2 linked regions of the Homo sapiens genome follow. The protein of the gene in region 2 purifies or fractionates together with the protein of the main gene of each other region. This does not show direct contact. Each region holds a gene or a part of one and is shown on either strand. Other genes may lie near its edges. The genes, in order: DDX46 and ATP8A2.

Region 1 (3,822 bases), on a different chromosome or scaffold from region 2:
TCTAGCATTAACATAGTATGTTCTTTTTTGCCACAACTATATTGGGTCATAATTAACAAAAATTATATATATTTAAGGTGTACAACATGTTTGATATACATATACACTCTGAAATGATGAACACAATCAAGCTAACATATCACCTCATATAGTTACCAATATTTTCTTTTGTGGTAAGAACATGTAAGATTGGTCAGGCACGGTGGCTCACACCTGTAATCCCAACACTTTGGGAGGCCGAGGCAGGAGGATCACCTGAGGTCAGGTGTTCAAGACCAATCTGGCCAATATGGTGAAACCCCGTCTCTACTAAAAATACAAAAATTAGCCAGGCGTGGTGGCAGGCACCTGTAGTCCCAGCAACTTGGGAGGCTGAGGTAGGAGAATCGCTTGAACCAGGGAGGCAGAGGTTGCAGTGAGCCGAGATCGCGCCACTGTACTCCAGCCTGTGTGACAGAGCGAGACTCCATCTCAAAAAAGAAAAAAAAAAAACATGATGTGAGATCTACTGGCTTAGCGAATTTTCAGCACACAATATAACATTAACTAGTCACCATGCTGTACATTACATCTCCAAAGGTATTCATCCTACATAAAATAACTAATTCTTACTATTATTTTTATACTTCATTTTTTAAATGATTTTAGAAGCAATCACTATTCAAAAAACTAAAAGTAAAAGTCACTTTTACTTTATTGAATCATCCAACTTGAGAAAAGAATGGAAAACATGAATGTTTCTTATATAACTACCTGCTCACTGATTCCTGTTCCTCCGTAAACACAGACCACTCTAAGTCCCAAAGTCTTGGAAAACTTCTTACACTCTTTAGTAATCTGTAAAGCCAGTTCTCGAGTTGGAGTCATGATGACAGCTGGAAAGATAAATACATCAGTAGCCTAACCACCAAAATTCTTAAGGCTGTGCTTTATAGTGTTCAATTTAACCTTTACAATAAAGTTCAGATTGTTTCACCTAATTTTTGTTTTGTTATGCATCCCTGAAAACTATTTCAAAAGTTGTATAACAGCAGAGGTTGTGGGGAAGGATAAATATAAGCAGATTTTTAAAAACATGCTAAAAGAAGATAAATGACAGTTAAATGCCTCATCCAACCCTCAGGAAAATACTTGGTTCAAAAGAATGCAAACAGTTTTCTAATGCAAATCACAGAACAAAGAAAATCAAGTGACTCACTGTGCCACAGAAGCCATACTGCTGCTTCCAGAAACAACCTTGGTCTGAGGGGCACAGACAGAGGAGAGATATACTATGCCCCGTGTTCCTAAGAGAGAAGCTGAACAACTTTCCAAAACCCTACTCAACTTTCCAAGAGTTATCTCTGCCAAGATGAATCAAGAAACCAGAATCTAAACAAGTAATCTTGAATGAAATGCTGGCATTATAGCCTGTTAAGGCCAAAAACTACCTAGGAAAATATGTTTCCCTAGGATATCTTCCATGTCGCTTTTATATATCCACTGATACTGGGCTAACAAACCTCAATATAAATAAACAGATAGATGCACGAGGAGTCTACCTGCCAAGTCAGAGTTTAAAAACTGAGCTGTGCCAGGAGAGGCTGTTTTTGTACTTCTGAGATGTCACTCCAGAGCTCTGAAGATTCTCACTCCACCTGCTGGTAAGGGGAAATCAGCCCCAAAGTGCCAAATTGATAAAGAAAATGTACATAAAGACAACTTCATTGTCATAATTAAGAACATTATAAACTATAAGGTCTTTCTGTTTGACAACAAAGCTGTTATTTGAAAAATAGTTTAATGAAAAGAATTGTACCTATTGGCCCCTCTCCTTCCTCTAATGACCTCTGATCCATGATGTGTCTAAACATGGGCAACAGAAAAGCAATGGTCTTTCCACTTCCTGTTTTGGCAATGCCAATCAAATCTCGTCCAGACATTATAGCAGGAATAGCTTGGGTTTGGATGGGCGTGGGCTTTTCATAGCCATGCCTTAAAAAGAAAACCAAAGGAAGAAAAGGTAAGAATTGAGATTGCTGGGCCCCAGACAGGTCCTATGTGTTCCCATAAAAATGAACTTCCAAAAGGTGGTATATATCATACAATAAAATACTATTTGGCAATAAAAAGGAATGAAGTACTAACACATTCTACAATATGGACTAATCTTTACAACATTATGTAAAGTGAAAAAGATCAGGCAGTAAAGACTATATATTGTTTGATCCCATTTACATGAAATGTTAGGAATAGCCAAATCTATTCTAGAGACAAAAAATAGATTAATGGTTGCCCAGGGGTGGGGAGAGGGGAGAAGACTGACTACTAATGGACAAAAGTTTCTTTTTGGGATAATGAAAAATTTAAAAATTAGGCAGGGCGCAGTGGTTCATGACTGAAATCCCAGCATTCTGGGAGGCTGAGATGGGAGAATCATTTGGGGCCAGGAGTTGGAGACCAGCCTGGTCAACATAGCGACACCCCATCTCTTAAAAAAAAAAAAAAAAAAGGCCGGCCTTGGTGGCTCACGCCTGTAATCCCAGTACTTTCAGAGGCCGCAGCGGGTGGATCATCTGAGGTAGAGAGTTCGAGACCACCCTCACCAACATGGAGAAACCCTGTCTCTACTAAAAATACAAAATTAGCCAGGCATGGTGGCACATGCCTGTAATCCCACCTACTTGGGAGGCTGAGGCAAAAGTATCACTTGAACCCAAGAGGCGGAGGTTGCAGTGAGCCAAGATCGAGCCACAGCACTCCAGCCTGGGCAACGAGAGTGAAACTCCGTCTCAAAAAAAAAAAAAAAAGGCCGGGCATGGAGGCTCACGCCTGTCATCCCAGCACTTTGGGAGGCTGAGGCGGGCGGATCACCTGAGGTCAGGAGTTCAACGCCAGCCTGACCAACATGGTGAAACCCTGTCTCTACTAAAAATAAAAATAACCAGCTATGGTGGCACACACCTATAGTTTCAGCTACTCGGAAGGCTGAGGCAGGAGAACTGCTTGAGCCCGGGAGGCCGAGGTCACAGTGAGCGCAGTGAGATTGCACCACTGCACTCCACCCTGGGCAACAGAGCAAGACTCTGTCTCAAAAAACAAAACAAAACAAAACAAAAAAAAACCAGTTGTATAATTTAAAGGGTAAATTTTGATATATAAATTATCTCAATGAAAGTTTTTTAAAACGTAAGGGTTTTTTTAGAGTAAAAATGTAACTCAGGGAGACACTGGTGTGGAAGGACTATTTTGAGCAGCAAGACACGGAAAACATAAACAACCACCAACCACTTACTTCTTGAGGGAATTTAAGATCTTCATGGAAATTCCACACTGGACCCAGGATTTAATTGGTTTGGGGCAACCTTTTCCTTTAACTGTAATGCCCTCCATTTCCAATCGAAACACATTTACCTCTACAAAACAAAACCCAGATTAAAAGTTCTTAAATATTGTTCTATTGGTGTCTTCTACTTTTCAATTAGGCATAAGATTAACAAACTTTAACTCTTATGCCAGACCCAGCGGCTCACACCTGTAATCCTAGCAACTAGCACTTTGGGAGACAGACGCAGGCAGATCACTTGAACCCAGGAGTTGAAGACCAACCTGGGCAACATGGTGAAACCCTGTCTCAACAAAAAGTACAAAAATTAGCTGGGTGTGGTGGCACATGTCTGTAGTCCCAGCTACTCGGGAGGCTGACATAGGAAGATCACCTGAGCCTGGGGTGGGAACGGGGGGTGTGGTAGGAAATCAAGGCTACAGTGAGCAATGACTGCACCACTGCACTCCAGCCTCTAGCCTGGGCAATGGAGTGAGACCCTGTCTCAAAAAAAAAAC
Region 2 (3,822 bases):
CTACATCTGAAATTTCACTTTAGACCAGCTGATGCCAAATTTTTAAGCTAAAAGAGAAAATCGCCAACTCCTCAAAACACAGCTAGTTAGCATAAATTCAAGCACAGTGTTGCAGGATTCTGGCAACATGCCAATTTCAAACTACTAAAACCTATACACAAGATGATTGTCTATCTACATACAATTCACTGGCTCACAGGAGACACACATGTCTTGGAACTTGATTTGACTGTGTGTTTTTTTTCTAAGGTATGAATAAAAAGTTAAACTTTAAAAATAAATTCTCAAACTACGAGATAGATATATATATTTTAAAAAACCAAACTCTAAAAAGAGCCAACACCTCCAAACACCAAAGATAATTAATGTCACCAAATCTAAAGATGAACTCTTATGGTACATACCACTAAGATAATGCTGACAATTAAAAGCTAAGAGTCAACAACTATACGACATCCCCATTTCAGAGACATTAAAATGTAAAAACAATGTGCACCTTGGAATGGATGAAATGTAGTACCATTCTCCGTGGTCTTCTAAATCAAATTTCAGAAAGCATTTTTTGCAAAAGCTATGTGAATCCCTCTAAATAAGCCCCACACCAGAAGTCAAGAGCCCTGAGACCTAGTACCAGTTTGGTCATTAAGTAGGGTATAGCCCTGGGAAATGTAGAATTTCCTCCTCGAGCTATAAGAATGTTCATATGTAAATATTAAAAAAAGAGTTTTCAGAAAACACTCCTAGTATAGTGCCTGGCACTTGCCAGACACTCCATTTACTTGCTCTGCTTCCCTTTTTTCATCTAGAAGGAGAACTGCTAGATACTTGATCTTCCCAAATATCTTCTGGATACCTTAAAATCCACACAGGATGCATGAAAATGTAAAGTATTATGGGAGACAGGTCCATAATGGTTCATACTACCAGGGGTATGAGGGCTATATGACTAGAAAACAGGCTTAGAAACCCACTCTGTATCTAGAGCATGACCTCATGCTGCTGACAGCTGCCGCCTGTGGTCCCACACTGAAAAGTCTAATAAAATGTCCGGACGTATATGCTTTCCTGAGCCTTCTGCATCATTTGTAGGCTTGACAGATACTTTAAATCACAAGACGACATTTAAATTCTCGGCGTCACCCAAGGCTACAAGCTTCAGTTCCAAAGGTGAAGTGAAGAAACAATTCAGACATAGCTCTCTCAAAGAAATCAATTGTCTAGCTGTTAGAAGCTTACTTAGTAACACCCAAGATGTGTTTGAATCTGACTGATACACTAGATAAAATGTGAATAGAGAAAGCCTCCAGGATAAACATAAGACTTTGACAAAAAGTCCTCAGCTTATAAAGCATCATCTTCTAGCGGTCTTGGAGAGTACTTGCTAAGAAAGATCAATTAAGAGATAGCAAATGATGTGAGCGGTTCTGGCATGAGCACTACACGTTACTACACCCACTTAGAAAAAAAGTACAAAATAATACAATCGTTATTTTTAAAAAATTGTTTGGACAGGTATCAATTATCTCATAAGGCTCAGAGCAGCCTCATCACATACAAGTAAAACTTTCGTTTTTGAGTAATAATCCATTTGTGTTTTCTGGGTTGATTTTCAGCACTTTGCTTTCTCTTGTGTTTATCCCAAACTTAGCTAGATAGGCTCAGGTATAATAAAATGAACACACACGAAAAAGGGCTGCGTGTGCTCCCAGGGGCCGGGCGGTGTGGATGAGAGGCAGTGAGAGGGAGCTGTGGTGCTTTTCCAGCCAGGGCACATCCAAGAACACACTGAAGGTAGTTCAGTCTAGGGCCAGTGACACGCATAGGTTATTAGGCCAGCGGGAACGCTCAAGATCTGGAAAACTAAGAAAGGTTACCACTTTACAGCTCAATTTTAACTTGAGGGGTTATCCACTTTTTTCACATTGCTCTAATAGGGTGGAAAGCATATCACCTAAATTTTAGGTAAGTATTTCAGGGTAACAGTCAACTTAGCATGCAAACAACAGGGGCCACAGATCCATAGCAGGTGTTTTAGGCCAAACTTATATGAAAAATAACACATAAAGGGTCAATGTATATACTTATACAGAAATATAGCATACAAAAAGCAAATGTGTTATTCTTCATTTGTAAAAATGCTACTGACACATCATCAAAGGGCTGTAAGCTTGGGTTTGTATTTTCTAGTAGCAGTGATGATTCTGCACTAAAATACCATCATACTGTTCTCCAAAACCATGCATCTGAATGACAACCAGCACAAATCCAGGGACAAAGTCTATGGCTGATTCTTCAGGGACTGTTTATGAATCCTATGTTACTCTCTTGTGAGCTTAACTTCCGTTGTTTGGGAGCCCAACTTCCATTTAATTAGCTATATCCCTGACAAGAAATGATTACATGGCTTTTGTCTATTTTTTTAAATCAAATTTATCCAAGAAGGCAGGTATTATTTACAACTGAGGTTACATGAGAGACAAAGCTGATTCAAAGATAAGGTTTTCAGGAAAGGGACACCATTGGATTATGTTGAGAATATTCCAAGAAGACTACTCTGAAGAGGACTATAGTCACTTAAATACAAAGGCTCTAGCAGGTTTCTTCCTAAAACACAGAGCACTGACATAGAAACAGATATAGAAATAGAGTCTACTTCTAGCAAGCTATTCTAAGTTATGCAGTGTTCATTTTACCACATATGCACCAGGTCTTGTTACACCATAATGCTGATCAAAGTACCAGATAGTGTTTAAATGTTTCAAATAATCAAGATTAGATTTTTAAAAAATGAGTAGCTTCAACTCCTTTTCAAACTTAAAACGTGCTCCTTTAACAACGGCAGAGTTATCCTGACTTAAATTCCTTTTCTTCAATTTTCATCTCTGTGATGCTCTGCAGTCAAGGAAGTTGTCAACAAGCTGGGAAGGGAAAGATGCAAGGCTCTTAGAAAAGCCCATTAATGGGCAAAACCATTAAAATGGTTATAATTACATAAAATAATAACGCATATTTAAACCTAGTAAAAACATGCTCTCTTAGTCTCAGACTAAAATTTTGTGAAGAAAGCAATAAGAAAATCAAAGCTGTCAAATCTTGAATTCTATGCCCTATGTAAGTGTGTCTAATTCTTTTCCAGGAACTATGATAGTTTTAATGTTTGTAACAGGCATGGAGGCATCTTCATTTGATTTAGGTCAATTTTCCTTAGCCTTGTGAATGAAGATTCCTATAAAACATCATCTGTCAATGAATTTGAGAAACATTTAGACACATTTAAAAGATACTTGAAAAACAAATACAAAACCCAGCATCAGGAAATTATTTGTAAAAATAATTACCTATATTAATCGCAGTTTCTTGTTTGTCTCCTGTCAACACCCATATTTTAATTTCTGCCTTCAACAGTGTTGCGATGGTTTCTGGAACTCCTGCTTGAAGGCGATCTTCTATGGCTGTGGCTCCAAGTAGCAGCAAATTCTACATTGAAAAAATATCCTCAGTTAAAGATTGGCACATACTTAAGAACAGCACTAACAAATTCTGACAAAGAAAGGCAATCAAACGGTTCTGAGACAGTTGTTCTATTTCCTCTATTTTATACTTGTGTCTACAGATGGCATCTGGATGGATGGCATTTCCAAATGCCTTGCAATGGTGGACTCACTCTACACACACAGGCAGCCCAGTACTCATCACTGATTTCTTGATACAGGGGCTTGTTAGAATAGAAGCCATCTGGCAGCAGAGCAGATGGGCAGGTTATCCCGAGGACACTGACAGTACCTGAGCCCTTCCTCTCAGTCCACTAATGAGTAGCATATT

Evidence for each region.
Region 1: the proteins of ATP8A2 (region 2) and DDX46 fractionate together in Homo sapiens (co-fractionation; one large-scale study listed by BioGRID). This does not show direct contact.

Annotation. Positions count from the first base shown.
Region 1 is NC_000005.10:134,782,518-134,786,339, reverse strand, and holds part of DDX46 (probable ATP-dependent RNA helicase DDX46), read right to left. Parts: intron 3,396-3,822; coding exon 3,275-3,395; intron 1,975-3,274; coding exon 1,799-1,974; intron 876-1,798; coding exon 754-875; intron 1-753. UniProt on the Homo sapiens protein: Component of the 17S U2 SnRNP complex of the spliceosome, a large ribonucleoprotein complex that removes introns from transcribed pre-mRNAs.
Region 2 is NC_000013.11:25,581,474-25,585,295, reverse strand, and holds part of ATP8A2 (phospholipid-transporting ATPase IB), read right to left. Parts: intron 3,478-3,822; coding exon 3,339-3,477; intron 1-3,338. UniProt on the Homo sapiens protein: Catalytic component of a P4-ATPase flippase complex which catalyzes the hydrolysis of ATP coupled to the transport of aminophospholipids from the outer to the inner leaflet of various membranes and ensures the maintenance of asymmetric distribution of phospholipids.